4 separate regions of the Homo sapiens genome follow, and regions 1, 3 and 4 are each linked to region 2. The links come from fine-mapping of genetic effects on gene expression. A gene starts in region 2. Each other region holds a variant in brackets. All regions are shown on one strand. Distances are from middle to middle. Region 1 overlaps GAS6 (growth arrest specific 6). Region 2 holds the start of TMEM255B (transmembrane protein 255B). Region 3 overlaps TMEM255B (transmembrane protein 255B). Region 4 overlaps TMEM255B (transmembrane protein 255B).

The links. PIP is the estimated chance that this variant, and not a neighbour inherited with it, causes the effect.
Region 1: its variant is fine-mapped to the expression of TMEM255B in blood mononuclear cells (TOPMed, PIP 0.97).
Region 3: its variant is fine-mapped to the expression of TMEM255B in monocytes after triphosphate RNA (Kim-Hellmuth 2017, PIP 0.95).
Region 4: its variant is fine-mapped to the expression of TMEM255B in iPS cells (HipSci, PIP 0.95).

The regions. Positions count from the first base shown.
Region 1 is chr13:113,821,188-113,829,116 of GRCh38, reverse strand. It overlaps GAS6 (growth arrest specific 6), which reads left to right. Exons shown (of 15, transcript NM_000820.4): 11 at 406-570; 12 at 1,953-2,121; 13 at 5,567-5,742; 14 at 6,931-7,159. The region is part of intron 1 of GAS6-AS1 (GAS6 antisense RNA 1); the gene reads right to left. Among named protein-coding and RNA genes, the nearest start is that of GAS6-AS1, 9.5 kb to the right of the region's middle. RefSeq lists an enhancer at 6,877-7,425. The variant G/CG (reference allele first, on the strand shown) is at 3,300.
Region 2 is chr13:113,754,669-113,762,597 of GRCh38, reverse strand. It overlaps TMEM255B (transmembrane protein 255B), which reads right to left and starts at 3,372. Exons shown (of 9, transcript NM_182614.4): 1 at 3,283-3,372. The coding sequence starts at 3,328. RefSeq lists enhancers at 2,653-3,154, 3,711-4,212.
Region 3 is chr13:113,807,047-113,814,975 of GRCh38, reverse strand. It overlaps TMEM255B (transmembrane protein 255B), which reads right to left. Exons shown (of 9, transcript NM_182614.4): 9 at 1-3,240. The coding sequence ends at 3,073. Among named protein-coding and RNA genes, the nearest start is that of GAS6-AS1, 4.6 kb to the left of the region's middle. The variant A/G (reference allele first, on the strand shown) is at 3,980.
Region 4 is chr13:113,795,644-113,803,572 of GRCh38, reverse strand. TMEM255B (transmembrane protein 255B) reads right to left here. Exons shown (of 9, transcript NM_182614.4): 5 at 4,154-4,234; 6 at 2,661-2,746; 7 at 1,761-1,920. Among named protein-coding and RNA genes, the nearest start is that of GAS6-AS1, 16 kb to the left of the region's middle. RefSeq lists an enhancer at 1,539-2,413. The variant C/A (reference allele first, on the strand shown) is at 3,476.

The DNA.
Region 1 (7,929 bases), 67 kb before region 2:
GAGGATCAGGTGGCCTCCCTGAGATCGGGACCCTCTTGGCCCAGGTGAGGATCATGTGGTCTGCCTGAGATTGAGACCCTCTTGGCCCAGGTGAGGATCAGGTGGTCTCCCTGAGATCGGGACCCTCTTGGCTCAGGGGAGGATCAGGTGGTCTCCCTGAGGTCGGGACCCTCTTGGCTCAGGGGAGGATCAGGTGGTCTCCCTGAGATCGGGACCCTCTTGGCTCAGGGGAGGATCAGGTGGTCTCCCTGAGGTTGGGACCCTCTTGGCCCAGGTGAGGATCAGGTGGCCTCCCCGAGGTCGGGACCCTCTTGGCTCAGGAGAGGATGAGTGTGGTTTTTCTCAGTTGGGAGCCCCTTCAGAACGTGCACTCCCATCTTTTCTCATGGCGCTGCCTCTCTTCAGATCTCTGTTGAGGAGCTGGCGCGGAATCTGGTCATCAAGGTCAACAGGGATGCTGTCATGAAAATCGCGGTGGCCGGGGACTTGTTCCAACCGGAGCGAGGACTGTATCATCTGAACCTGACCGTGGGAGGTATTCCCTTCCATGAGAAGGACCTCGTGCAGCCTGTGAGTACTGTACCTGTCCCTGTGTAGACGCGCCGTGTGCTGGGATCCCGGGAACGGTGTCAGGAAGCCTCAGTCACACCCTGCCCTGTGTTTACCATTAACCAGGTGTGAGGAGGACCTAGAGGAAGGAAAGGTTTCCTAGAGTTTGACAAAGTCGCCGTACAGCTATGTCATTAATTTTACCATCTCTTTTTATGAGACCTAAGTTTTCATCTGAATTGATAATAAAGTTGTCTATTTTTCAATGGAGATAAGACACAATTAAATTATTATTATTTTTTTTGAGACGGAGTCTTGCTCTGTTGCCCAGGCTGGAGTGCAGTGGCGCGATCTCGGCTCACTGCAAGCTCCGCCTCCCGGGTTCACGCCATTCTCCTGCCTCAGCCTCCCAGGCAGCTGGGACTACAGGCGCCCGCCACCACGTCCGGCTAATTTTTTTGTATTTTTAGTAGAGACGGGGTTTCGCCGTGGTCTCGATCTTCTGACCTCGTGAACTGCCCACCTCGGCCTCCCAAAGTGCTGGGATTACAGGCGTGAGCCACCGCGCCCGGCCGAAATTATTCTTTAACAGAACAGTAAACTTTTTTGGACAATTTCCAAGAACATTTTGGGTTTTGTAACTCTGCCGTGAGTCTCATAAGGGGAAAACAGCCATGATGGGCGGTCAGTGTGGGCCATTGCTCCAGGTCCCGCCTTCTCTCCCCTTCAGCACAGCACACGCCCGTGCCCCCGACCTGTGTCTCCAGCCCCCACGTGCTGACGTCTAAGCCGTCATCCTGGGTATTTTCACTTCCACACCAGGCAGGAGAAAGGCACGCATGTCTTCGCGTCTTTGGGTGCTGAGTGTCGGCAGTGCCTGTGCTGAAGCCACCCCTTCAGTGTTGTGAGGGGCACCTGCTCCCCAGGCCCACAGACTGCCTGGTGCCGGGACCTTCGGTGTTGTGAGGGGCACCTGCTTCCCAGGCCCACAGACAGCCTGGTGCCGGGACTTTGCCTGGCTGGACCCTCCTCGTTTCACAGATAAGGGGGTTGCCCTGATTTGCCCACAGCCATATTGAATATTGAATAATTCACATGAGTGTTGGATGGTTGAACAATCCATACTCTTTGACCTTAGACCCACATGGCCTTTTCAGTCCTTTCCTAGCTTTAAAATGAACCTTTAGTTCTTGAGCATACACCAGTGGAAATAGGTATTCTGCAGTGAGGCGTTGTGTAAAGTGAAGAAACCTTCTGTGAAATGGCCACCACCGATGGGACTGGCCCGTTTCTGCCGTAGAGCTGCACATACCAGGGCCGCGAAGGCGCCACCCACCGACTGGGGCATCCGGCATGGGGCTTCTCGCTCCCAGGAAGCCACGGAGATTTCTCTGCCTTTCCAGATAAACCCTCGTCTGGATGGCTGCATGAGGAGCTGGAACTGGCTGAACGGAGAAGACACCACCATCCAGGAAACGGTGAAAGTGAACACGAGGATGCAGTGCTTCTCGGTGACGGAGAGAGGCTCTTTCTACCCCGGGAGCGGCTTCGCCTTCTACAGCCTGGACTACAGTAAGTCTTGGCTCTTACCGTTGGGGTGGCTGTGGCTGCACCTTCAGACAGGCATACGCTGAAAGCAAGCAGACGGCCTCAGATGGCAGCGTCAGGACAAGCTGAGGCTCCTCCGGTTCCGGGGCAGGGATGGGTGGGCGGGGTGGGCGGAGGTGCGGGCAGAGGCCCACCTCTCAGGATGGCCATGCAGGTCACTCAGTTCAGAGTCAGCCAGTGAAGAAGAAATGAGAGAGATGTGCCGAGAAGGTGCCTGCGAAGCCAGTGCCAGGAGGCCGGGGAGAGAAGGTGCCTGCGAGGCCGGCGCCAGGAGGCGGGGGAGAGAAGGTGCCTGCGAGGCCGGCGCCAGGAGGCCGGGGAGAGAAGGTGCCTGCGAGGCCGGCGCCGGGAGGCCGGGGAGAGAAGGTGCCTGCGAGGCCAGCGCCGGGAGGCCGGGGAGAGAAGGTGCCTGCGAGGCCGGCGCCGGGAGGCCGGGGAGAGAAGGTGCCTGCGAGGCCGGCGCCGGGAGGCCGGGGAGAGAAGGTGCCTGCGAGGCCGGCGCCGGGAGGCTGGGGAGAGAAGGTGCCTGCGAGGCCAGCGCCGGGAGGCCGGGGAGAGAAGGTGCCTGCGAGGCCGGGGAGGCTGGGAGCCTTACAGGGTCCTTTGCAGAAAGTCCGGAGACAGCACAGCCTTAGGACTCGTCCAGGGGCACAGAGAAGCTCTCGGTAACATGGTGGACACCGTGGTCACCGATGACCCGGTGAGACAGCTACAATGGGAGGTGTGTAAAAACAGCCGTGAAGCTGCCTGGGGGACAGTGAACCTAGGCCTGAAAAAGGGAGGACAGGGTGGATGTGAGCTGCTGGCCCAGTCCTGTGACGCCACGCTGCCGCCCTCCCCAGTGCAGGCTCCGGGGGTGCTGCTGTGAGGATAGTGTTACTGCTCGGCCCCACCCTGCCTCACATTCCCACCCCACGTGGGCCCCACTGGGGCACCACAGCCCTGCCCTATTCCTGGACACCGAGCCGTTTATGGTGAAGCCCCCACACGCACAGAGGGCAGGCAGCGCCCCCTCCGTCAGATCTCAGGGCTGCCGGCCCTCAAGCACCCAGCAGGAACCCCAGGTTCAAGGGGATCCACGCGGAGCAAAGGGGAGGGTCCTGCCCCGTCCTGAGCCAGATCCAGTGTCACCGTCTCCCCCC[G/CG]GGTGTCAAAAGCGTGACCGTGTCAGGAAAGGCATCTGAGAAAAGCGCCATCTGCCACTGGCTGGACTGACTGTGCACACGCGTTCTCCCTCAGTCTTGATTTTTGGACTTCCAAATCTAGAGCATCATAATGTTTGACACGAAATCATGTCATATGAAATGCTTAAATCCTTTTTCCACTTAATATCATACACATTTCTCAGGGGTAACCTTATGCAGGCATCACAGGGGCCATTTCCAGTGACTGCCGGCCGCGTCTGCCGGCCCTTTTTGGTCTATCCGGACAGAAGCAGTTACAGCTCCATGCATTTCCAGTGAATCTCAAACTATACCAGTAACGTCTCTTACAAGACAGAGGAGACTTGCTGGGAATGGTAGTACTGGCCTGGCTCACTCTGCAGCGACTCTGCTGGGCTCAGGCTTGCAGATCTCCGGGTCTGTGCAGCCTCCATGCAAGGGGCCACGTGGAGCCGGGAAACCTTCCCGGGGAGAGCAGAGGCCGGTGCCCTTGTGAAGCCCCGATGGCCAACATGTGCCTAGCCTCCTGTCAGGAGCTTCCTTTTTTTTTTTTTTTTTTTTTTTTGAGACGGAGTTTCGCCTTTGTTGCCCACACTGGAGTACAATGGCACGATCTTGGCTCCACCTCCCAGGTTCATACCACAACCTCCGCCTCCCAGGTTCAAGCGATTCTCCTGCCTCAGCCTCCCGAGTAGATGGGATTACAGGCATGCACCACCACACCCAGCTAATTTTGCATTTTTAGTAGAGATGGGGTTTCTCCATGTTGGTCAGGTTGGTCTCGAACTCCCGACCTTAGGTGATCCACCCACCTCAGCCTCCCAAATTGCTAGGATTACAGGCGTGAGCCACCACGCCCGACTGGGAGCTTCCATTTTAAAGAACACCATCATCTCTCCCTTCACAGGTTATGGGAAGACCGGCAAACAGGAGACTTTTTGTTGTTACTTTTTGATTCTGTTGCAATATTTTTGTTACTTTTTCTGATTTTGTGTGTTTCGGTGCCATAAATGGTTGTTGAGAACTGATGTGGCGGGTACCAGCTAGGGACAGGCAGGACAGGCGATGTGGGTTTCAGGCGTACACAGCCCCGTGGGAAAGAGACAGGGAAACCAGCACAATTCACTCTGACCCCAACCTTGGCCTGCAGTGCGAGGCGCCCAGTCACAAATGTGTACACACAGTGATTTGGGGTCCTTTTTCCTAAAACAGCTTCTTTATCAGGACTTTGGAATTCTGGGTGAGATAGAAACACTGAAAACAGGGCGGAAGTTTTTTCTTCTGGCTTCTTAGTCCACGGAGGGCTCAGCGTGGAGAGGATATGCCGTGGCATTCTCCCTGGGAGACCACACATGTTCCCGACAGCTCAGACCCCAGACCGCATGTGCTCCTGACAGCTCAGACCCCAGACCGCGCGTGCTCCTGACAGCTCAGACCCCAGACCGCAGGTGCTCCCGACAGCTCAGACCCCAGACCGCGGGTGCTCCTGACAGCTCAGACCCCAGACCGCGCGTGCTCCCGACAGCTCAGACCCCAGACCGCGGGTGCTCCTGACAGCTCAGACCCCAGACCGCGCGTGCTCCCGACAGCTCAGACCCCAGACCGCGGGTGCTCCTGACAGCTCAGACCCCAGACCACGCGTGCTCCCGACAGCTCAGACCCCAGACCACGGTGCTCCTGACAGCTCAGAACTCAGACCGCGGGTGCTCCTGACAGCTCAGACCCCAGACCGCGCGTGCTCCTGACAGCTCAGACCCCAGACCACCGTGCTCATGACAGCTCCTGTCCGCATGCTATCTTAAACTCTCAGCCCCCACTGGGCCCTGTGCTGCTACCTGAAAGCTGCAGGTGAGATGCGAGGCACGAGGCCACGCACGCTCTGAGGAAGGAGCTGTCAGGCGCTCCTGAAACAAGAGGACATCGGAGGGAGGCAGGGACAGGCCTGCGTCCCATGGTGCACAGCCTGTGGCCCCTCAGACGGGCCTGTGTGGCCTGGTGGTCACCTACAGGGCATTTGGAAGTGGGGTACTGGTGTGGCCAGGGAGAAACAGCCTGGGGGTCCCCGGTGCCTCTGGGCTCCGGGCCAAGATCTGAACCAGTCTGTTGAGTTTTCCATCACGTCCCAGATCCGGGGCTGTCTGCACAGCTTCCCACCCCGGCTGGGACTGCATCTCTCGAGGCCCTGCTCCGACCTCACTGTGGCCTCTCCACCGTGCATACCACCCTATAATGCACCGCTTTCATTGCAGTGCGGACCCCTCTGGACGTCGGGACTGAATCAACCTGGGAAGTAGAAGTCGTGGCTCACATCCGCCCAGCCGCAGACACAGGCGTGCTGTTTGCGCTCTGGGCCCCCGACCTCCGTGCCGTGCCTCTCTCTGTGGCACTGGTAGACTATCACTCCACGAAGAAACTCAAGAAGCAGGTAGGGCCTCCGCCACCCAGGGCGTCCTGACCGGCTCGACCCACGGGTACGTGGGCTGCACTCCCTGGCAGGGGACGAAGGGGGCCCGCGGTGGGATCCCCAGGGACCCCCAAAGCCTCTGACCAGAGGTCTGATGAGCCAAGCCCGGCGTGGGCCACGCTTCGGGCTGCGGGGGTTGTTTGGACACCAGGTCACCGCCACACAGCTGAGGGGGCCGGCGCCTGCGAGCCACACTCGGCTCACAGTGTGGGAGCTTTTCCCCTGTTCGGTTGGGCAGATGGTGGCTCACAGCAATCTGAATTAGTCTCTGGTGTTTAAGTCAGATGATTTCAGCAACAAACTCAGTTTTCCAATTTCCCTGGAAAAGTCGGATCTGTGACCTTGGCCGGTCCCCCAACAGCGTCTTTCCGTGGGGGACACCGGGTGGAGCTGAGTGCAGCTGCCCCTTGGACAAGGTCCCCCCACCCCCGGTCCTCACAATAAGTCAGCTGTCCTGGGCTGGGGGACTCATGCTGTTTTCCCCACAGAACAATCAAGAGGTGACAGAAACAGCTTTTATTCTCTCGCTCGTGTGCTAAGGAGGGAGACATGGGTCAAACCAGAGAGGCTCACGTTCTCCAAGTCTGCCCACCCCGGGGCCACAGAGCCCTCCCGCTTGCTGGGATACGACAGACAGGCTTGGTTCATGCAAATGCTCGTTACCAGGGCCAGACCCAATCTCAGCATCTGGAATAAACAGCTGCTGTTATGTAGCAACAGCCGACCCCTGGGCTGCTGGGCTGTGGTGCCAGCGTGAGTGCCCACCGGGCTGGGAGGCCGCCACCGCAGGGCTGGGTCCTGGGTCCCCATCAGGGCCACCCCAGTTCCTGGTCAAGTGCAGCCTCGGTCTTGTGTGTGCCTGGTGCCTGGGGCTGGGGTTGACCCTCTCACACCCAACCTGGGGGCCACACTTGTTCCCCCACAGCCTCCCAGGCTGGCCCCTGGCTTTACGTGCAGAGAAGCTGAGCCCCAGGTGGGGTGGGGGTGTCATCCACAGTCAGCGAGCATCCAGACCCAGGGCTGCAGGGAACCCTGGACGGAGACAGGCGTGCGGCGTAGGGGTGGCCAGCAGCTGTGAGGACCAGCTTGGACCTAACAGCTCACGTAGGGGTGGCCGGCAGGCCCTGACCACACCTCGGTCTCCTGCAGCTGGTGGTCCTGGCCGTGGAGCATACGGCCTTGGCCCTAATGGAGATCAAGGTCTGCGACGGCCAAGAGCACGTGGTCACCGTCTCGCTGAGGGACGGTGAGGCCACCCTGGAGGTGGACGGCACCAGGGGCCAGAGCGAGGTGAGCGCCGCGCAGCTGCAGGAGAGGCTGGCCGTGCTCGAGAGGCACCTGCGGAGCCCCGTGCTCACCTTTGCTGGCGGCCTGCCAGGTAGGTGCTCCCTGCTCCGCTCAACCCGGGTGAAGAGCTCCAGGGAGGCCCAGCTTGGTCACCCCAGATCTAACCTGGACAGGCTGGGGTTTCTGGTAGTGAATGCGGAAGAGGACTTGTGTTTTAAGAGGAAGGAGAAGTCCAGGTGGGTCGTTAGTGGCTATTATGGTGTCTCGGTGCTGGTCAGGTCATTGGCTGAGACTGAGAAACACGTACGGGGGCCGGCATTGGCCTGAGTCAGGCCCCACGAACCTGCATCTTCAGGGAGCATTCGTCCACACCCATCAGACCAGCCCCGGGGGAGAGGGCTGGGCAGACCTCGGGCCAGGCTGCAGTTGGGACCCGCGGCTGTCACCGCAGCTGTTAGCAGCGAACAGAGTGACCGCCAGCCCCTCCCATGTCCAGCAGGGCGTCCTGCCGTGTCCCATGGGCTACACAGCACAGAGGCTGGGACCGGGGATGTCCTTGCCATGAGCTGGGAGGGTCAGCGGAAAGGCACGTGGGAGCCGGCAAGTCCTCGGCTGCCCGCAGGTTTTCACTTGCGGCAAACGGCAGGATTTCTCTCTTGGCTGCCAGACACAGACTCCACTTAGTTTTAATAAACAGAGCTTTGAAGAGGATGAGAGCGAGCCAGGAGGCCTGCAGCCTGAATGACTCACTGGGCACAGAAGAAGATCACGTTTAACCGATGGGACTGTCTGTGCTCCCAGCGGGGAAGGGAGGGCTGGCGTCTGCAGAGCCCAGGCTGGCAGATGCCTCCTGCTTGTCTG
Region 2 (7,929 bases):
TCTCCTCTGAAACCACGTAAATCCTCCTACAAACCATTTTCAACCTAACTTTGCTATGTTTACCCCTCTTTCCTGAGTCTAACTTCCCCCCCATCTGCTACAAAATAAAAAGCAGAAGGTATGAGCCACCCTTTTATCAGCATTCCTATCACAGATTCCTAGATTATACAAGTCTAGAAAGACAGTAGAACTTACATGGGGCACTGGGAGCAATGGTTGCAAATCATCTCATTCAATTACACAATGGTGATATTTTGACTCCAGATATAATAGAGATAACAAAAAGAAGACTCCCAACCTTAAACACATTCTATAAATACATGACACAGCATAAAAATGAGAAAAAAAATAAACTCAAGAAAAGAAGGTGGGATATCTTTATAATTAGCATAAGAGATAATTATAAGGTCAGATTTTCAAGAGAAAGGGGCTTTCACTTAGGAGAAAGATAATTAAAATCACCTGAATAATTTCCTTGATTTTTTTTTTTTTCCTGTCCCGGAAATACTGTTATTACACGCACTGTGAAAATTAAAGTGCTCCTAAGTGCCCCAACTATTAATTAAAATATCTACCAATAGGTTTCTATTGCAGAGGCAGCTTACAGGGACTGGACCCAAACCATTCTGGGTCTGTCCAGACCCATTGTGTGGTCTTGGGCGGCCATTTAATCTCCCTGAGCCTGGGAGAAGAGAACCCTATGAGAGCCAAGAGCTCTGTCTCTTGTTTGTCGCCGGTTCCCGGGGCTCAGATGAGGACATAGACACATCTCCTGGTACGGAATGAATGAAGGCACTTCAGTCTCCTGACCTGTAGGATGGAAATCATGAGAACCACCTGCTCACCCACCTCTTGAGATTGTGATAAGCGTCCAGTGAGACACGATACGTGGGCTCTCATATAGGTTTTTGTAAATGGAATGCATATGCTAATCATCAGGGTGGTGTGAACTTTAAGACGGCGTAGCGGCTATTCTTAACCAGCATTTCTCCCACTGGAGTTGCAAGGAGGAGTTCTGAGATGTGAAGCTGAAGGGGCCAACAGCTACCTCTCTGCTATCAAGTGCGCTGATTTTTCTAATTCTAGTCTTCCCCAGGTGCAGCCCATCTAGGATATCTCAGAATATCACCTTGTCACTCCCCACCAGCCCCCACTTCTCCCATCCCACCTGCTCTCCCCTTCCTGGCTCCTTCCCCAGCCTTAGCTGGAGGAGCTGAACCACATGAGCCTGTGCCCACGCCAGGTCCTACCTGGAAGACACGCGAGGCTGGAGGTCAGGTTCTTCCTGCCCCTCAGACCCATTTCCTCTACTCCACAGAGCCAGGAAGGGGAATGTCACAAAGCATGGGAGGTGGCACTGCTTGGAAGGGTTCTAAGATCCGGCCTTCCTGCCAGCCGGACCTGGAACGCCCAAAAAGAAGAGTGAGTTCCATTTAATCATGTGGGGACACCAGTCATGGTGTCCAAGTAACAATCCCAGGTAAAACTGTAATCACTCAGCCGTCAATTCCTCTTTCGTCCTGATTTTACACATGCCCAGGGTAGTGAACAAAGAAGGGCAAAGCAGAAAAACCCATAATCCTACCCCCAGGTACCCCAAAGCAGAAAGACTATGGTCCACCCCCAGATACCCCAAAGCAGAAAAACCCACAATCTACCTCCAGACACACCAAAGCAGAAAGACCATAACCCACCCCCAGACACACCAAAGCAGAAAGACCATAATCCACCCCCAGGCACACCAAAGCAGAAAGACCATAATCCACCCCCAGATACCCCAAAGCAGAAAGACCATAACCCACCCCCGATACCCCAAAGCAGAAAGACCATAATCCACCCCCAGACACACCAAAGCAGAAAGACCATAATCCACCCCCAGATACCCCAAAGCAGAAAGACCATAATCCACCCCCAGATACCCCAAAGCAGAAAGACCATAACCCACCCCCAGATACCCCAAAGCAGAAAGACCATAATCCACCCCGACACACCAAAGCAGAAAGACCATAATCCAACCCCAGACACACCAATGCTTTATACATTTTAGTAAAAGACCAGCTCCAAACAAAAAGACCCATAATCCTACCCAGATACACCAATGTTTCATATACTAAAAAGACCAGCTCCAAGTATTGTTTTAAGGTTTAAAGTTCTTTGTCAGAAGAAAATCTAAGTCAGATGCTATTTTTAAACATTAAGGCATTCTAATAATGATAAAACTAGTTAATAAATAATAATAATAGTTATCATTATTAAACACCAATAGACTAATCCACATTAATACATTTGACCATAGAGCATTTTGCTTTAGATTGGAAGGCATATAGTGGTTTCTTTTAGAAAGAAGCCAAATTATTTGATTATTTTAAGTAACAGTAATTCGTCCGGTTCCGAACGATGCCGCAGTAAAAGGGTTGTGAGGTTAATCCCCAGAAGTTTGTGTTGGATTATTTCTGAGGGAGCGGCAGAGCCCCCTAGACACCACTCCATCCCTCCCTCCAGCCGTCAGGGCTTCACTTTCTAGGGAACTCTGTTTCTCTTTTGTTCTGAAATCTGCCCAGCCCTCTCCCCCTCAGGAAGACACCCGGCATCCTTCCAGTCCTGGCCACTTCCCGGCAGAGCCCCCGAGCCCGGCTTGCGAACTGGTGAACACGCAACAGGTTTCCTGTTTTCCCAGCCTTTGCCTGGCTCCGAGGCTGCAGCGGGCTTGGTCTGGGAAGTGGAAGAATTGGAGATTCCGTGAACACACCGGGGAGAAACACGAGAGAGGGGCGAGCCGAAACCAAGCAACACTGTCCAGTTCTGTGAGCGCCTCTGCACGTTCAAACAGGAAAAGGCTACCTCGCTCTTCCAAACGAAGTTTTCCCGGAAAATGGTGTAGGTTGGAATAAACGGAAGAGATGGGGAAGGAGCGCACTTTGGGGCGCCTGTTCCTCATAATAAAACGTAACAGGGAGAGAGAGGCCAAGAGGAACGGACACAGAGTCAGAGAAAGGCAAAGACTGAGGAGGCAGAGACAGAAAGAGCGAGAGAGACAGAGACAGAGACAGAGAGAGAGACAGGGAGAGAGAATGAATGAACGAACCGGTAGGACGAACGCCCGACCCCAGTGCGAAATGCAAAGTGTTCCAAAGACAGAGCTCGAAGGAGGCGGAGGGACCAGACCCCGTGCCGCGTCTCCGCGCAGGTTCCGCCCGGGCCGGCCGGGGACCTGTAGTCCCAGCCCCGGGGTCCCCACGCTCCCCCGCAGGAGCCGAGACGAGCCCCCAGCCCCGCGCTCACCTGCGGGGTCCAGCAGGCCCAGGGGCCCGGGCACCGGCGGCTGCATCCCGAGGCCCCACCCGGCTCTCCCGGGGCCACAGCCACAGTCCCGCCGCCAGGAGCCGCCCTCGCGGCGCCGCCCCTTCCCCGCCCCCTGCACCTCCCCGCGCTCCGCCCGCCTCGCGTCCTTCCTCGCTCTACTCTCCCTTCTCCGGCGTTTCTTCTCCTCCCTCCCCCGCTGCGCCCGCTCCCCCTTCTCCCCTCCAGCGGCCGCCTGGTTTCTGGAAATCAGGACGCCGCGGCCGGGAGTGGAAGCCAGACCCCAGATGGAAGGTGCCTGGAGAGGACCCTGCGGACTCGGGGTCGGAGCCCCGGCCTGGGACGGTGACCCCGGGCCTTCCGCCGCTGGCGCCACGCTCAGCCCTTGGCGGTGCCGCTGAGTGGGTCACCACGGGTTCGCCTCCCCATTGGCCGGTGACGGAGCTCCTTGGGGCTACAGGGCCAGCCAGCCCTTGATCTCTGGGTTCAGAGGGTGGTACATGGTGTTACAACCCAGTCTGCGAGGAACGAGTAAATGAGGAACAAACGCAAATGAGTAAATGAGGAACAAACGCATCTGGCACCTCACTCAGCAGCCCCGAGGCAGGGCTGACCCGCCTCTCCAAGGCCTGCGTCTTTGTGTCCACAGCACTGAAGTTGTTCTGAGTAAAATCTGCTGCTGGAAAGAAGGGCAAGGAAACACGGGGCCAGAAAGGGTGCCTCGTACAGCAGCAGGAAAAAATAAAGATCCTTCTAAACGTATTTTTAACATCTTTGAGTCAAGGACATCAGCGGTCCCGTCACAAAAGAAGATGCTTGAACGATCAATAAACTCAGCCCCCGGAATTAGGGGAACGCTGTGGGAACAAGAGGATGCGTTTCACCCTCATCCTATCAGAAAACCCCAAGGGTCAAACAACTTAAAGAATGTTAATGAAAACGTGGGAATCTGCATTCACCGCTGGGATCACGCATGGTGCCACCACTTTGAAAGCAACCTTTAGGAAAATTGAAGCAAGTAGATGACAAGCCAGAAAGAAAGCATATCTCTTTCTAGATATGCCCAAGAACACAAACATAGATCTGCTCCTTCGAGCCAGGAGCCGTGGTTCTCAACCCCGGCTGTCGTTAAAGTCATCCAGGAATGTCTTTAAAAGAAAAAACATTTCTGCAGCACTGAACCCAGACCAGATCAATTGAACCAGAACTTCTGGGAACAAACTAATAGCTAAGAATTCCCTAGTCATTCTAATAGGCCATCCACTGTGAGAGAGAAACTACCACAAGAAGTATGCATGTGCTAGAAGATGCGTACAGAATATTCCTCACAACACTGTGTGTCCAAAGCACCGGACACACCCTGAATATCCAACACGGGGAGAAGCGATAAAGAAATGGGCATATACAGCGAAATACCACATGGCAGTTAAAATAAATGAGAGCTACATGGATCAATGTGGATAAATGCCAAAAACAGAACGCGGAGCAAAAATGCAAGTGCACAGTACGGCAGCGAGTACGACAGCAAGTACGGCAGCGAGTATGGTACCATTTATATAAAGTTTTAAACCATGAAAATTAACACTGTTCACTCAGTGAGCCTCTCAAGACTTACTAAACATCCGCGATATACCAGACACTGTTCCAGGTACTTGGGATGTATCAATGAGCAACGTAAACAAGGATCCTGGTGGGGAAGTGAGGCCATGAATAATAATACAATAAACAAGAAAAATGCACAGCATGTCAGAGGGCAACATGCTATGGAATACACACACACATATACACATACACACATGCAGACATACACACATGCATGCACATACACACATACACACACATGCATATATACACATGCATACATACACACATGCATGCATGTGTGCATACATACATGCACGCATACATACATGCACATACACACATGCATACATGTGTGCATACATACACGCACACATACATACACATACATACACACATGCATACATACACACTTATACGTGCATACATGCACATATGCACATATACATACACACATGCATGCATACACACATGCACACACATACACATGCACACATACATGCACACACATGCACATACACACACATACACACTTATACATACACACACATACACACATACATACATACACAGCCAGGTAATGCAGGCCACAGAAAAAGGAAAGAGAGGTAAAGAAACAAAATAGAAAGTATAGTGTGGGAGAGGGAGGGAGCTGTGGTTTTTAAGTAGTGAAAAGAGAGCTTGTTGACAGGTGATGTTGAAGACCAAGCTTGAGGGCGTGGAGGTGGTTGCTCACCCAGACATCTGGGGCAGAGGGTCTGAGGAAAAGGAACCTCCATGCAAAGGCCCTGGGGTGGAGCCATCCAGGCCCAGGGGGAGCAGCAAGGAGACCAGGGTGCCAGAGGCTTGTGGGGACCAGGTGGAGGACATCAGGGGTGAGCCGCAGGGCCTCTGGCCTTTGCTCCGAGTGATGTGGGGGTTATTGGAGGGTCCTACACATAGGATTACTGGAGAGTAGTTGTAGGATAGCAGAATGGAAGCTGAGAAACTGGTTATAGGATATGATGAAACAGTAGGAGGTGATTACACGGACACCATGAGTCATGTTTGCAGATACACGGACACCGTGAGTCCTGTGTGCAGATACACGGACACCGTGAGTCCTGTGTGCAGATACACGGACACGTTGAGTCATGTGTGCAGATACACGGACGTGAGTCTCGTGTGCAGATACATGGACACCGTCTCGTGTGTGCAGATACATGGACACCGTGACTCATGTGTGCAGATACACGGACGTGAGTCTCGTGTGCAGATACATGGACACCGCCTTGTGTGTGCAGATACATGGACACCATGAGTCATGTGTGTGCAGATACATGGACACCGTGAGTCATGTGTGTAGATGCATGGATACTGTGTAAGTAAAGTAGAAGAACATGCTGGGGGAGAGTGCATGCTTCATCCAGAACTGTGATTCTCTGTCTGGGTGGACAAGCTGAACAGCTTTGGAACTATGTCTAGGGGCTTAAACTCTATTTGTGAAATCTTCTTTCTTTAAAAAAGTTAAAAGACTTGTAAAAAAAGGGGGAATGTTGAGATACCATTAAGGCTAGATGGTGTGGACAGGGATGTTATATTATTCTCTATACTTTTCTGGATGTTTAAAATAGATGATTACTTTTTTGTAACTTTTTATTTTTATCTATTTTCAAACCTAAAGGTGGTTTGCAGGGATAGTGCAAGGAGCTCCTGTGCATCCTCTACCCAGGTGTGCCTTTGTTTGCAGTCTGTCACTTTTTTGTTTTTTGAGACATGCTGTGGCTCTGTGGCCCAGGCTGGAGTGCAGTGGCATGATCATAGCTTACTGCAGTCTCCACCTCCCAGGCTCAAGCGATCCTCTCACCTCAGCCTCCCAAGTAGCTAGGACCACAGGCGTGTGCTGCAACACCCAGCTAAGGTTTATACTTTTTGTAGAGATGGGGTTTCCTCATGTTGCCCAGGCTGATGTCAAACCCCTGGGCTCAAGTGATCCTCCCATCTGGGCCTCCCAAAGTGCTGGGATTACAGACGAGAGCTACTGTGCCCGGCCACAGTCTGTTATATTTTAAAAATTAAATGGACGAAAGGAAAAGAAAAGGAGGAAAAAGGGCGCCTGCTTGGCTCTGCAGGCCGAGTCCCACCCTAAGCCGCCAGGGTGCCCAACCTCTTCCACCACTGAGAGCAGCCCAGGGATTTCCATGTTTGTCTCATTCCACCAGGCTCAGGGAATGCCTTTTTAAAGAGGAGAAAAAGCGCCTGCCTGGCATGGGGAATGTGCAGGGGCCAACTGGAGCACAGCCAACTCAGAACTTCTTCAGGGGCTCCCTGAGCAGGCCCCACCTGCCTCCTCTCCCCAGGCCTGCACCTCGGAAGTGGCTGGAACCCACAGCCAGCACCTGTCCTTCCTTCCCGCCAGCACCACCTTCCTTCTCTACTCACTCAGAGATACCGGGGTTCCCCATGACTGGTTCATCCTCCCCTCACCCCTAACTTTCCGTGGTCCTCAGATCTCTAACCCATTCCTGCAACATCCAGTGAGGTAGGGAAGCAACAGCGCTGGCTCCGAGAGCCAGGGTCAGGGCCAGGGGCTGACTCCCACACTGTCCTGTCCTGAGCATTGTCCAGGCCCAGAGCAGGGCTGGGCTTGGCGCTGGGCTGTGGAAGCACAGGAGTGATCACTGACCTGGGGCCCTGATGGAGCTCAGAGGCTGATGGAGAAGAGACAGAAAGACTGAGCCCTCCCAGGTGATGCCACCGTGTTAAGCTCAGCGCTGAGAGGCAGCGGGAGGTGTCGCAGGGAGGGCTCCCGCAAGGAGAGACACACAGAGCTAAGAGCTGGAGGGCAGGGAGCCAGGCCGCTCGGGCCCTTCCTGGAGGATCGGATGAATCTGTTATCTCTGAGCAAGCTCCGGGAAACAGGAGACAGGTCGGGGGCTGGCTTGATGGGGGCAGTGGATGGGGTTACCCAAGATACGCTGCGACCTGTGAGCGTCCGGGAAGGGATTCAGGCTTGGGAGGAGTCCAGGAGACAGAAGTCATAGGATTGCCAATCTTTACAGTGGGACA
Region 3 (7,929 bases), 52 kb before region 2:
CCTGTCTCCTGTGCTGTCCCAGTGAGGCAGGGAGTGCAGGTGGGGCCACAGCACCCCAAACCCCCCAGCACCCCCTGCCCCGGGGCCACAGCACCCCCAAACCCCCCAGCACCCCCTGCCCCACCATCCCCTCCACCCCATCTCCCGCGGCCTCCAGGGTCTCACTGACCTCGGCTGTGCATGGGAACCAAGTGAGGGCGGGATTGGGAGCCCATCCCTGCAGAGGAGGCTGGGATCAGAAGGCCCCAGCGGAGCCCAGAGAGGGGGTTCATCAGACCGTGACTCAGGCTGGCAGAGCTTGGTGGCCCCAGACAGGATCCGTCCACATGAGACAGGTGCACCTCGAGAGCAGCCGCCGCCCACACTGCAGGCCAGGCATTGGCCGGAGCCCTGCGCCAGGTGGGAGCTGCCCTGGGACCTGGGGGACCCTCCAGCCACCACGAACCTTGAGTCAAATTGTTCACATTCTTTGTGGCTGGGATAAAGGATAAGGACATTTTTGTGGCAAGAACAAAACTGTTGACCTTGGAGTTGAATATTTTTGAACAGCTTTTGACTCTAGACAAGATTAAAAGTCGGGAAAGATCGATGTTGTGTTTGGGGGAAGCTGGTGAGTGCAGCCTCGGGGAAGCACTCTGATGCCCCCACACCGCACCCTGCGACCGAGGGCTGACATGAGGGGAAGGAGGGTTATTCCTGTGACTTTGCTGGCCAGAGCTCCAGGGGGCATAGACTCCCTGCCCAGACCTGCAGTTCAGCTTCTCTGCTGTTCGCACCCCTAGGACACCAAGAGGTGCTGGTGCCTGCACCAGGCAGCTTCGGGGGCACAGCCCGAGCTCCAGGGTGCCCAGGAACCGCCCACACAAGACCACGGCACCATCGGCGCCCATAGAGCCTTCCCTGAGGTAAAGTGAGAGCCCTGGGGACTCGGGAAATCCGTGGCACACTTTTCTTCCCCCACAGGCGCTCGTGAGTGCATCTCCCGGCGCTCCAGAAACCTCTTGGTCTCTGCTGCTTGTTCAGCTTCTTACTCGGAGCCAGGCACCCACAGCCCTGGAGGAACTGGGCGGTGATTTCCAGACAGGACGCCGCACCTCCGGCTCGTGCCCGACCTCCCGGACTGGTTCAAGGCCAGTCAGCCCTGAGAGGCCAAGACCACATTCTCCTGGACAGCAAGCTTGTGAGGCTGGATTTTATAAGATAAAAATGACAAGCAGTGGCGGGTTCACAGACCAGAGCTGGCTGCAGGCCTTTCAGAGGCCCGTTAGGGCCCCTGGGCCCAGCCAGCCACCGTTCATGTGTGGATGTGCGCTGTGGGCCTTCTGCCCAGGAGCGCTGGACACAGGATGAGACCCTCCGTCGGGCAGAGGGAGGCTCCCGGGCAGCGGAGGGGGCAGAGGCTGTGTGAGACCCTCCATCGGACAGAGGGAGGCTCCCGGGCAGCAGAGGGGGCAGGAGGCTGTGTCTGCACGAGTGTGGCTCCCCTCCACCTTATCTTTTTTCTCCCAGATCCAGGACTGGGCAGGGGAGAAAGTCCCCGCTCCACCTCCCAGGTGGGCACTGTTCCGTGAAGTAAGCTGGAGACCTCAGACCCACACGGGAGAAGAGCGGTACTTGTTTATCGTAGGCACGGGGGGCTTTGCAGGGAGGGACGTGAGGCCCTGAGAGCGGTGAGGCCTGGAGGCGCCAGCTTCCGAGGGGAGAGGGAGTGACTGGGGAACCGTGAGCGGCCCACAGAGCAGAGACGGCGACTTGGTGTCTTGTGGCACGTCTGGGGAGCAATGGGATCACCTCTCGCCCGCCCTCCCGCCCTGGGAGTCCCTGGTTCCCTGAGGATCTGACTTCAGGAGTTCAGAGAAAGCCTCTCCCCACATCCAACACTTTTCAAGAGACTTCGGCTACTTTGGGGTGGCGCATCCTGAACTCCTGTCACTGGGGCGCCTGTGACCCACCCGGGACCCGTGACCCACTCGGGACCCGTGACCCACCCGGGACCCGTGACCCACCCGGGGCCCGTGACCCACCCGGGACCCGTGACCCACCCGGGACCCGTGACTCACCCGGGGCCTGTGACTCACCCGGGGCCTGTGACCCACTCGGGACCTGTGACCCACCCGGGATGCCTGTGACCCACCCGGGACCTGTGACCCACTCAGGACCTGTGACCCACCTGAGACCTGTCCTGTGACCCACCCGGGGCCTGTGACCCACCCGGGACCTGCTGCTTCCCAGGCGTGCTCACCCGTCTCCCCAGGTGTGCCCGGCAGGTGCATGCTGGGCCCGCGGGGAGCTAAGCTGGTTTCCACAGGGAGTGCTGCGGCCCCAGACCCTGAGCCAAAGGACCCCGAAACACCGTCCCCCACCATCCCAGCGGCCAGGGGTCCTGAGACAAGGTGCGGTGAGGGAGAAGCCGCGGAAGGACAGCGGAAGCCCAGGCGCCGTAGCTGGGAGACAGCTCAGGGGAAGACCCTCGTGCCAGTGGCCCAGGCAGATTTGCATCCGGGGCTGGGAAAGACAACCGGGCCCCTGGATTCTAACAACTCACAGGCGGTTAGACACAGCGCTGGGCGTTGGAGCCGAAGCGTCCTTCCCTTCCTGGCATACGTCAGGAGCACAGCACGAGGGGCGGGTGGCTTCTGCCCTGCGCTTCTCCAGGACACAGATGCACACACGAACGTGTAACGCACAACACATGTCCACAAACAAGAACACACAGGCAGGGAGGCCGGGGCTGCACTGTCTTTGCAAAATCATAATAATAGCTAATTAATTAAGGGATGTGAAAACACCAGAACAATTGCTCTCAGAGGAGGAGGCCGGGTGGGAACTTTCAGCGCCATTTGATGTGAGCAGAGCCCAAGCCAAGGTGTCACCAGCCTGGGTCTGGAGGGCCCCACTCCCTGCCTGGTTCCAGCCTCCCTCACCAGTGTGCCCAGGGAGGAAAGGAGGGGACAGACTTCTGGAACATTCTCCCGGGTTCTCTAGGAGGTTGGCCACAGAAGCGGGATTTCTAGAGGCTGCCTTTTTTTTAAAAAAAAAAACAAACAAGTTATCTTTTACTCCACGCCTCTATCAGGGTGCGTAGGGGGGTGGCTTCTCCCCCGGGGGAAAGTAGGTGGGTGCGTAGCACGGTGGAGCCTGGCCGGGAAGCCCAGAGCCAGAGCTGCTTGGAGAAGGGGGCTGCAGGTCCTCAGACGAAGCCAGGGCAGAGGAGGGCGCAACTGGGAAGCGGCTGCAGGGCTGCAATAAACAGAGAGGGCCCTGGGTTAGCAGGTGAGACCACCCCGTGCCGGACCACAGGGAAGCCTGACATATACCAGGGCCACTCACACGCTCCCCACCCACCCCGCCAACCCAGGGCCACCCGCAGACTCAGGGCCATTCACATGGGCCCCCCGCAGACCCAGGGCTATTCACACAGGCCCCCTCAGACCTAGGGCCACTCACACAGGGCCCCCCGCAGACCCAGGGCTATTCACACGGGCCCCCCACAGACCCAGGGCTATTCACACGGGCTCCCACAGACCCAGGGCCACTCTCACGCCCCTCCCCTCCCCCGGAGACCCAGGGCCACTCTTACGTCCCCCTCCCCCACCGCAGACCCAGGACCTCTCTCACCGGCCCCCACCCCACAGACCCAGGACCACTCTCACCGGCCCCCCCACAGGCCCAGGCCCACTCTCACGGGCCCCCACAGACCCAGGACCACTGTCACGGGCCCCCACCCCACAGACCCAGGACCTCTCTCACCGGCCCCCCCCACAGATCCAGGACCTCTCTCACTGGCCCCCACCCCACAGACCCAGGACCACTCTCACGGGCCCCCACCCCACAGACCCAGGGCCACCAGAAGGAGCAGCCCCAGCCCGGGGCAGAACAGGAGAGGGTGGCCGGGGCCTCACTGGCACAACCTTGGCCTCCACAGCTGCATGGGGCAGGGGGTGGACGCCCCAGGAAGGGTGTCCTCAGACCACATCCC[A/G]CTTCCTCACAGCCAGCGAGCCTCTGACCTGACTCCAAAACCAACAGTTAGGGTCCACCAGGCCTGGGGCCCCTGGGCTCACCCAACTCTTCATATTTGGGAAAGGCCCCACGTATGAACCCCACACGTCCACACGTCCAGCAGCGTGTGGCTGGTTCAGTGTCACCGTGGCTGACTCAGCGGCTCACACACGCATCTGGGTGTTGCCGTGGAGGCATCTTCAGGTGTGATTGACACCCTTGCGTACAGTGCCTCAGCCCCTGGACACGGACGGCCCCTCCTCTCCACTGAAGGCGTTAAGGAAAGAGGCTGTGGTCCCCAGGAGAAGTGGACTCTGCCCCAGTGGCCTAGGCACTCCCGGGGCAGCGTCACCCTCCCTGGTCTCCAGCCTGCCCCCTCCCTGTGGTTGTGCACCTGAAGCCCACAGTCATCAGCCAGTCATTCAGAATCGATGGATTGATCTCTCTCTTCATATGTAGGTACCTGTATTCTCCCATAGGCTCTGCTTCCCTAGAGAGCCCTGACTAACACACATAGACCCACCCAAGTAATTCTGAGACCAGAAAAGCGAAGAACGGCACAGATTTTAAATTGATACATTCTAGTTTTTCTCCAACTGCTAACACACATCTTAATTCTTTTCTTTTTTTCCCCTTAAATTCTAGGGGGAACTTCTAATCAAATTTTAAATAAATAAAGCAAACAAACTCCTTCTAAGAAATAACACAGGAAGAGTTTTTCAAACTCCAAGCTACCAGATGTGCTCTGTGCTCCTCTTGCCCCAGCCTGCAGGGTCCCATGAGAAGCCAGCTGCCTGTCTGAGCCTGCGTGTTCAGCATCCCCAGAGAAGCCAGCTGCCTGTCTGAGCCTCTCCCTGGAGAGCTCTGCACTGCAGACGCCCTGGGAGCTAGCAGGACCTCTGGATCCTGACAGCAGAATTTCTGCACAGGTGTAGGTAAGGCTGAGAATGGGGCCCTTCCTCAGAGGGACTGCAATGTTGAGGTTGACAGCCCAGGCTCATGGGATCCAGTGGTTCAGGGACACCTGCCAACCTCATTTCTTTCTTCCCCCGAAACTCACACAGGTTTCTGGCCACAGGCGACAGAGTGAGACACTAGGGAACATTCTCTCAAGTCTGCTGGGAGCTCCCAACTTCCAACTCTGTAGCACCCACTCTTCTTCACAGCAGATGAGCAGTTAAGGAAACTAAGGGGTAAACCCCAGGACCACAGATAAACCCCAGGAACCCATGGAGTAACTCCCTAGGAACCACCGAGTGAACCATGGAGTAAAACTCAGGAACCACGGAGTAAACCCCCAGGAACCACGGAGTAAAACTCAGGAACCACGGAGTAAACCCCCAGGAACCATGGAGTAAACTCTCAGGAACCACGGAGTAAACCCCTCCCCCCAGGAACCACAGAGTAACCCCTCCCCCCAGGAACCACAGAGTTAAACCCCCGGGAACCATGGAGTAAACCCCCAGGAACCACAGAGTAAACCCCCAGGAACCAGAGTTAAACCCCCAGGAACCACAGAGTAAACCCCCAGGAACCACAGCATAAATCCCCAAGAACCATGGAGTAAACATCCAGGAACCACAGAGTAAACTCCCAGGAACCACAGAGTAACCCCTCCCCCCAGGAACCACAGAGTTAAACCCCCGGGAACCATGGAGTAAACCCCCAGGAACCACAGAGTAAACCCCCAGGAACCAGAGTTAAACCCCCAGGAACCACAGAGTAAACCCCCAGGAACCACAGCATAAATCCCCAAGAACCATGGAGTAAACCCCCAGGACCATGGAGTAAACATCCAGGAACCACAGAGTAAACTCCCAGGAACCACAGAGTAACCCCTCCCCCCAGGAACCACAGAGTTAAGCCCCCGGGAACCATGGAGTAAACCCCCAGGAACCACAGAGTAAACCCCCAGGAAACACAGCATAACCTCCCCCCAAAAACCACAGAGTAAACCCCGAGGAACCATGGAGTAAAGCCCCAGGAACCAGAGTAATCTCCCCAGGAACCACAGAGGTAAACCCCCAGAAACCACAGCATAAATCCCCAAGAACCACAGAGTAAACCCCCAGGAACCATGGAGCAAACCCCCAGGAACCACAGCATAAATCCCCAAGAACCAAGGAGTAAACCCCCAGGAACCACGGAGTAAACCCCCAGGAAACATGGAGTAACCCCCCCCCCAGGAACCACAGAGTTACACCGCCAGAAACCACAGAGTTAAACCCCAAAGAACCACGGAGTAAACCCCCAGGAACCACAGAACAAACCCCTAGGAGCCACGAAGTAAACCCCCAGTAACCACAGAGTTAAACCCTCAGGAATCACAGAGTAACCACCCAGGAACCACGGAATAAATACCCCTGGAACCATGGAGTAAACTCCCAGGAACCACGGAGTAAACACCCCAGGAACCATGGAGTAAACCCCCCAGGACCACAAAGTAAACCCCCAGGAACATGGAGTAAACCGCCAGGAACCATGGAATAAACCCCCAGGAACCACAGAGTAAACCCTGGGACCACGGGGTTAACCACTGAATGACAGGGCCCCCCTAGGGACAAGCCCTGCCCACGAGTAATCTCACAGGGGAAGGGAGGGCATGTTTCTTAGTAACGGGGCAGGAACTCATCTTCTGCTGTGATGCCACGTCCTCCCCTGCACTTCATGCCTGGCAAAGCTGCTGGGTGCAAGGAAGGTGATCTCTTTAAATTGTCCTTTTTATTAACTGCTCAAAACCTCCCCCACCAAGTCACTGTTCCCCATCCCCCACTGTCTCAAGTGGGAGTATTTTCTGCTGCTAACGACTTCCATGGAACACCCTGAATATTTTCTCTCCATCTCTGTGGAAGCAGGGCCCCTCCTCCATTGTTCTTCTGAGGAGCACATGAGCCTCATCTGATTTGCCATCTCTGAAATCCAATTATCAGCGTGCGTATATTAAGCTCCCACACATGCTGGCCTGGCACAAAGGCTGGCTGGGCCATCTGAGGGCCCCAGGCCTCCCCAGAGGAAGAGGGGAACATCCACCCTTTGCGTAAACCCAGAGCCCCAGGGTGGATGAGGATGGAGCACCATGGGGATGAAGTGGATCTGCCCCTGTGCCCCCCACGTCCCGTAAGCCCGCGTGTGACGGGGAGGACCACCCCCCACATCCCGTAAGCCCTCCTGTGATAGGGAGGACCGCCCCCCACATCCCGTAAGCCTGCGTGTGACGGGGAGGACTACCCCCCACATCCCATAAGCCCACGTGTGACAGGGAGGACCACCCCCACATCCCGTAAGCCTGCGTGTGACGGGGAGGACCGCCCCCCACATCCCGTAAGCCTGCGTGTGACAGGGAGGACCACCCCCCACATCCCGTAAGCCCACGTGTGACAGGGAGGACCACCCCCACATCCCGTAAGCCTGCGTGTGACGGGGAGGACTACCCCCCACATCCCGTAAGCCTGCGTGTGACAGGGAGGACCACCCTCCACATCCCATAAGCCCGCGTGTGACGGGGAGGACCACCCCCACATCCCGTAAGCCTGCGTGTGACGGGGAGGACCACCCCCCACATCCCGTAAGCCCACGTGTGACAGGGAGGACCACCCCCACATCCCGTAAGCCCTCGTGTGACGGGGAGGACCGCCCCCCACATCCCGTAAGCCTGCGTGTGACAGGGAGGACCACCCTCCACATCCCGTAAGCCTGCGTGTGACGGGAAGGACCACCCCCACATCTTACACCTCCGTGGGGCTCACAGGCAGGGAGGACACACCTGCCTGAGGGAGTCACCAGCCCCTCCCTCCACAAAGCCTCACTGTCTCCAAGGTCCCAAGTCAGAATGCAAACTTGGAGAAGCCGGGCCCCTCACAGCCAGAGCTTCAGACAGCCGGGCCCCAGCACCAGGGCGGCCCAAACCAGCCCTGGAGCCAGAGAAGAGGA
Region 4 (7,929 bases), 41 kb before region 2:
CCGGGGCGAGTGCACAGAAAGCAGAGAACACGGGGGCCACGGAGTCACACGCGGAGGAGGCCCCTGAGAGGCTGGCTCAGCCGCCCGCCCTTGCCGGCACGTTAAGTGCCTCCCACGCACCCATCACAAGTAATTTGCCCTCGTCTACGAAGGGCACGTCCAGCTTGGAATGTTAAGGAATGAAGGAAGCATCTTCATTCCTTAACAAAATGTTTAAATGGCAAAATCAGTTAAACTCACAAGAGGGCCTGCTTGGTGGGTGTGAAGGTTAGCAAGTCCTCTCCTTGCTCTGCAGCCCTGAGCTTTGGGTTCGAGGAAGACTTCCTGGAGCCGGTGTGGCTCTGCATTGCGGGCTGGCCCTGGAGGTATCACCTGTTCCTGATCCTGCACTCCAGCATTTTATCACGGGCTTTAATGAACACACGAGCCCCTTCCGGAAAACCCTGGACACCCCGGGCCTGTGTGGCGAGCATGGCGCCTGCACCAGACAAGCGTTTCTGTGTCCTGTCTACAATCCGGCTGCAGTTCCTCCTGGGACGGCCGCTGAGAGGAGACACTGAGCTGCCGAGGCAGAGAAGCTTGCACCGAGGAGACGCCAAAGGCGCCCGGAGCCCGCGAGATCCCGGCAGAGACCCTTCCCGACCCCAGACTCCCGCTCCCACCGCAGGGGCCGGCCGGCTGTCACCACAGAGCAAGGACCCCTGGGAGGTGCCTGTCTTGTGTTGGTGTGCGGGCGTCTGGGGGCCCAGGGTGGGGCTTGGGGGGCCACTGGGTGGGGAGCCAGAGGGCTGGACCTCGGGATGCCAGGGTCACTCTCAGCTTCACCAGTTTTGTCTGGAAGCACAAAAGTGTTGAGAAAAGGAGGAGCTGAGAAGCAGATGGCAGGAGGGTTCCCAGCTGAGCTAATTTTTAGTCATGGACAGCCTCTGGGACGAATAGGGCATGGAGAAGCCGCTCAGGAGTGTTTTCGCTGCCTCGCTGGGCCGGGTCTGGCCTGCATGATGTGCGTCTGCCTGGTGCTGCCAGGCCTCCTCATGTGGGTGCAAGAGGGGGCGCCCCTCGTCCCTGGGCTGCCGTTTGGATACTCTGGGGGTTGGGGCTCCCTCACTCCTGGCTGCCCATCCCTTACAGCTTCTCTGCAAGTTCAGGGGGCGGGGTTTGCTGGCCGCACACCACGAGAACATCTGGTTTGAAACAGGCGCCAGGAGAGGGCAGAGGAGGGAGAAGAGAGAGGACATCCGGCCCGGGCCAGTGATTTCCCTGTGGTTTCCCGGGCGAGGGCCGGCCTTTCCAGGATGGGTCCAGCCCACCTCCCGCGAGGGGCCCCTTCCCTCCCTCCTCCTGCCCAGGCCAATCCTGGCTGTATGGGTCTCGCCTCTGGGGTTTGCTAAGGCATCAGCTCAGCCCCAGCCCAGACCTGCCCATCTGAAGCCCCAGGCAGTTGCTAATGATGGGAGCTTAGTGCACAAGGGCTGGGCCTCCCTCTTGGAGCTGAACATTGTTTCTTGGGGACGGCTGTGCCCACCTCAGCGGGGAGGCAAGGATTAAATCAGGTGATTCTTGTGACAGGCTTGGGACAGGACGGCCCCGAGGTGAGTCGGTGCACGCCAGCTGTCACCCTGACACCCTGCTGACAGACGCATGGGCTTCAGTGCCCCATCTGTAAAGTGAGGGCTGGAGGCCCCCCAGCCCACCCCGGGGAAATGGACCCGGAGCCCCGGCTCCCAGTGAGCAGCGGGGGTCCCACCAAGGGGCCTCACCATGTCCTTGAAGGCCCCCAGGACGGCGGCGGTGATGATGCCCAGGAACAGGCCCAGGACGTTCAGAACTGCAGAGGCCCAGAGCAGGCGGTACAGGTGCAGCACGTCCTGGCAGCCGCTGACGCCGATGAACTCATAGTAGGCGGGCGAGGGCTCTGCGCTGCACAGAGAGGGCACCATGGCGTCACCGCACGAGGCAAGTGACCACCCGCAAGTTAAACTTGTGTCCTCTGGACCTGAGCCCTGCAGGGCTGGGGGAGGAAATCAGGGCTGGAGCCCAGTCAACGCCCATCCCTGCACTGCTCTGGGAGATCAAACCTATGTCTGATGGGATTGGCCTGTGAGGCTCCCCACCTGGGGCCCACAGTGGCAAAGAGCGGCAACTGGGCCTGGCGGGCCCGCCCCTCCGCCTCGATGGCCTGGCAGGACGGGTGTCTGGGCCCCGGCTGAGCCATCTCTGTCTTCACGCCAGGATGGGAAGGCCGTCGGGGTCACGGGCCCCTGTCCCAAGAGGGGGCCATGCCTGGGGCCTCAGAGGCCAGGCCAGGTTTAAACTCTCGCCCGACACACACGGGCTGTGTCCTCTTGGGCAGATCAACATTTCAGAGCCTCTGTCTTTTCATCTGTGAAATGGACTCAATGTCCTTTCCTCATGTAAACATCTAAGGAGTAAAGGAGACGATGTAGGTGCAGGGGTGTGGGGGGGGTGATGTCAGGAGCAGAAGGATGGAGGCCTCACCCCTGCAGGCACATACGGGGGTTCCCAGCGCCCCTCACCTCCCTCAGGTGTAGATATAGGGGTCCCCAGCGCCCCTCACCTCCCGCAGGTGTAGATACGGGGGTCCCCAGCGCCCCTCACCTCCCGCAGGTGTAGATATGGGGGTCCCCGGTGCCCCTCACCTCCCGCAGGCATAGAGGTCACAGCAGTAACAGGTGTTGCTTCTCACCTTCAGCTGGCACTTGCCGTCCAGGGAGTGACAGGTGACCTGGGGCAGAGAGGCCTTGTCAGGTCACATGCCGGTGCCCACCACCTCACCCACCCCACCAAGGGCAGGGCTGCCTCATGGGAGCTGGGAGCGGCCACTGAGGCCCAGCCAAGCAGCTGCCTCCCCCGACTTTCCCCCGACTCCAGACACAGAGGCTTGGGGGCTCGGGGGCCAGGACCCTTCCTGCAGGAGGGGTCAGGGGCACAGGCTGGTCCCAGAGGCCGGATAATCGGGGCTCAGAGGAGAGGCCTTGCTTCTCCATGATCCCAGGAGCAGAGGGAAATATCAGGGTGCGTGGGCAGAAGGACAGAGCCCAGGAGGCCTTCGGCGTGGGGTGCACAGAAGCCTGAGAGCCCGGAGGGCGGCAGAACAGGCCCCGTCCCAGGGCGCTCTCCCCCCAGGCTTGAGCACTGGCAGCCTCAGAAGAGACACCTGCCACCTCTGTGTGACAACCTTGAAAGCCCTGGCCAGGGGACACCCCCCAACACACACACACACACACACACACACACACACACACACACAGAGGACGCCTCCCCTGACACACACACACAGGACACCTCCACACACACACACACAGGATGCCTCCCCCCCACATACACACATGGCATGCCTCCCGCCTACCCCCCCCCACACACACACACAGGACACCTCCACACACACATACACATACACACACAGGACACCTCCCCCCTAAACACACACGGGACGCCTCCTGCCTACCCCCCC[C/A]CACACACACACACATAAACACACACACACACACGATGCCTCCCGGCAGCTGCTGGAGAGTCCCAGACAAGCTGGCAGGTGCTGGCCACTGAGAGGGCCTCCAGCTCCTCCTCCTCTGACACGCGTGCTGAGGATGAGAGGCTGCGTTTAGTTAAAGCCAGGAATCCACACAGGGCAGGTGCGAGACACACAGAGAGCGCCGTCACAGAGCTGTGCCCTCCGACGGTCCTGGCGAAGGCGGCGGCCGCCCGCGGGTCATTACTCCCCGCATCTCACTCACCTGGAAAGAGAAATGAGGTCACACTGCCGCTGTCGGTGGCTCAGGGAAATCCAGAAGTTTCTCGGACACTGTAAATGTATTATCCTTGCTTCTTATTGCAATAATTAAATTAGAAAAATGCTAATTGGAAGAGCCATACAGAACTGGACACGTGCACTCTGAGACTGTTGTGATTTAATGAAGCAAGTCCAGAACTCTGACTCCAGAGTGAAATACAGCACATCGAAATGTCAAGGTCCCAAACACAGGGGGCATCAACGGTTCACCAGCTGCAGGGGTGACCCCCAGGAACTATTAGAATCAAAATATTCAGACCACGCCTATGTGCAGGGAAAACCGCGTGGGGTCGGCGGGGTTAGCTGAGCAAAACCCACATGAATCTCAGTGCTCCTGCTCACCTCTGTCTGGTAGACATCGTACAAGTACCCCACCCCACTGGAGTAAAACTGGCATCTTCCCGTGGTGAGGGGCCTCGGTTCCTAGAGAAACAGATAAACACAGATGGAATAAAACAGGTGCCTCCAGGCGGGAGAGGCCAGAGGCAATTTCAGGCCTGTGGGTCTCAGGCTCAGGGCCTCAAGGACCAAGGCCAACACCAACTTGAGCCTCCCAGACACAGAACACAAGATGGGAGACTCCACGCTCCCTGCAGAGCAGCTGGGCTGCTGCATCCAGGAGGCCAGACAGCAGAAAGCCCCATGGGAGGGTACCTCGGGCCATGCATATTCTCCATCAGTCAACAAGGGCAGCAGAAGGGAGACAGGTGCTTGGCCTTTTGAGGGGCATCCCTACCACCCCACATCACAGGTGTTAGGCTCCTGCATCGTTTCATAAAAGAAAATATTGTCTCTTCTACTAGGAAGGTAGCAAGAAGGATTTCAGACCAATAAACTCATCCCTCCAACCATCCAATCATCCACCCACCCACCCAACCATCCATCCAATCATCCAATCAATCATCTGTGCATCCACCCATTCTTCCTTCCATCCTCTACATCTATCTATTCATTCATCCATAATGCATCCATCATCCATCCTTCCATTCATCCACATCCATCCATCCACCCATCTGTCATCCATACTTCATCCATCCATCCATCCATCCATGTATCCATCCATCCTTCCATCCATCCACCCATCATCCATCCATTATCCATCCTTCCATTCATCCACATCCATCCATCCACCCATCTGTCATCCATCCTTCCATCCATCCATCCATCATCCATTATCCCTCCTTCTATGTATCCATCCATCATCCATCCTTCTATCCATCCACATCCATCATCCATCCTTCCATTCATCCACATCCATCCATCCAACCATCATCCAACCATCCATCCATCATCCATCCATTATCCATCCTTCGATTCATCCACATCCACCCATCCATTCATCTGTCATCCATCCTTTTGTCCATCCATCATCCATCATCCATCCATTATCCATCCTTCTATTCATCCACATCCATCCATTCACCCATCTGTCATCCATACTTCCATCCTTCCATCTGTCCACCATCCATCCATCATCCGTTATCCATCCTCCTATCTATCCATCCATCATCCATCCTTCTATCCATCCACATCCATCACCCATCCTTCCATTCATCCACATCCATCCATCCATCCATCATCCATCCTTCTATCCATCCATCCATCATCCATACTTCCATTCATCCACATCCACCCATCCATCCATTCCTGTCATCCACCCATTATCCATCCTTCTATCCATCCATCCAACCATTCAGCCATACACCCATTTGTGGCCCTATCCAACTATCAATCCATCCGACCATCTGCAACATTCATGGAGCAGACACAGTGCCAAATGGTAAGGATAACGAGACACAGTTCTTGCCCTTAAGGGATTTATAGACTAGTGAAGAAGACAGACCCATAAACTGACCATTGCAAAGTGCTTATAATTGCTATGGTAGAGGACAGCAGGAAGTACCAAAACTAAAATGCCACAAAACTGCATCACCTGCAAATAAGCTAGGGTCACATTGCCCACGTTTAGTTTTATTAGTATTTCTCAAAGGCTCCTAGTTCTGAACCAAGAAAAGTATTAGAAACCACTAGTAACACTGCAACAGATGAGAATGAGAATCACTCATCGGTCCTTTGGGCCCCCACTGGTGAAGTACTATTATGGCCGGATGCGTTCTAGGTGACACAGCAATGGAGGAAGCAGACACAAGTCTCTGTCTCTGGGTGTTTATCTTCCCCTGAGGGGACAGACATGAGACCACAGGTAACAATGAGTAGCCCAAGGGGACAGAGGCTCCTTCCTGGAGAGAGGGCAGTGCACCCCAACCCCACGGACAGAGGCTCCTGCTGGGAGGGAGGGCGGTGTGCCGGAACCCCATGGGGACAGAGGCCTAGCAGCACGGTGTCCTCGGCCTCTCTCAACAGTTGGAAGGCACGCATCTCCCCATATGACGCCCTTAGAGCTGTAATTCACCATCTGTCTTCTTCCTCAGCAGCACACGAGGCAGTGCCACATTTTCCTCGATGGCATCTGAGCTCCAGTGAGTGCTGTCTGCGCATCCGTCCTAAAGTCAGCCCTGGGAGGCCCCGGCCAGGGGCCCTGCTTTGTTTCTAACCAAGAGGCTCCCACACTTGCCTAGATGCATGCCCCGCGTGGCCCTCCAGAATGGACAGGCGCCCGAGGTCCGGAACCTGGGGACACCCCCGACTGCGGTCAGAGACTGGACCCTGCTCCTCGGCGGGGCCACGGCCACGGGCGCCTGGAGCACAGTGGAAACCACCGTCTGGAAGCCATAGAATAGCAAGTCACCCAGCCACCCGCTGAGAAAGCTCCCATGACGCACCTCCGTGGGAGTGTGTGTGTGCGCGCGAGTGTGAGCATGTGGGCCGTGGTGTGTGCATGCGTGCGCACGCACGTGTGTTTTGTGAATGTGCTCCCACACTTGCCTTCATATAATGAAACCGTTGGGGCAGACAAAGGCCTAACACCAACCTTCAGTGCCTTTCAGTGTGATTTATGGAAAAAGAGGGAGAAACAATCACAGGTTTGGTCTGAGAGTTCATGACAAGCAATTCGGCTGCTCCCGGGGACCAGCTGACGCCCAGATGGCGAGAGCCCACCCAGGAGCCCAGCCAGGGAGGAGGGGGGATGGCGCAGCCCACCGGAGGCTGAGGACGCACCTCAGGAGGACACAGAAACGATTCCTTGGCCTGCGACTTTAGAGAAAACCTGTTCATTTAGAGGTGAAAAGAGCGTGGTGTGGTGTGTATGTGTGTGTGGTGTGTGCTCTGTGTGGTGTGTGTGCTGTGTGCTCTGTGTGGTGTGTGTAGTGTGTGTGGTGTGTGCTCTCTGTGGTGTGTGTGGTGTGTACTCTGTGTGGTGTGTGCTCTGTGTGGTGTGTGCTCTGTGTGGTGTGTGAGGTGTGTGCTCTGTGTGGTGTGAGGTGTGTACTCTGTGTGGTGTGAGGTGTGTACTCTGTGTGGTATGTGCTCTGTGTGGTGTGTGAGGTGTGTACTCTGTGTGGTGTGTGAGGCGTGTGCTCTGTGTGGTGTGTGAGGTGTGTACTCTGTGGTGTGTGCTATGTGCTCTGTTGTGTGTGTGCTGTGTGCTCTGTGTGTTGTGTGCTGTGTGCTCTGTGTGTTGTGTGGTGTGTGCTATGTGCTCTGTTGTGTGTGTGCTGTGTGCTCTGTGTGTTGTGTGCTGTGTGCTCTGTGTGTTGTGTGGTGTGTGCTGTGTGCTCTGTTGTGTGTGTGCTGTGTGCTCTGTGTGTTGTGTGCTGTGTGCTCTGTTATGGTGTGTGTGCTGTGTGCTCTGTGTGTTGTGTGCTGTGTGCTCTGTTGTGTGTGTGCTGTGTGCTCTGTTGTGTATGTGCTGTGTGCTCTGTGTGTTGTGTGGTGTGTGCTGTGTGCTGTGTTGTGTGTGTGCTGTGTGCTCTGTGTGTTGTGTGCTGTGTACTCTTATGGTGTGTGTGCTGTGTGCTCTGTGTGTTGTGTGGTGTGTGCTATGTGCTCTGTTTTGGTGTGTGTGCTGTGTGCTCTGTTGTGTGTGTGCTGTGTGCTCTGTTGTGTGTGTGCTGTGTGCTCTGTGTGTTGTGTGGTGTGTGCTATGTGCTCTGTTTTGGTGTGTGTGCTGTGTGCTCTGTGTGTTGTGTGCTGTGTGCTCTGTTGTGTGTGTGCTG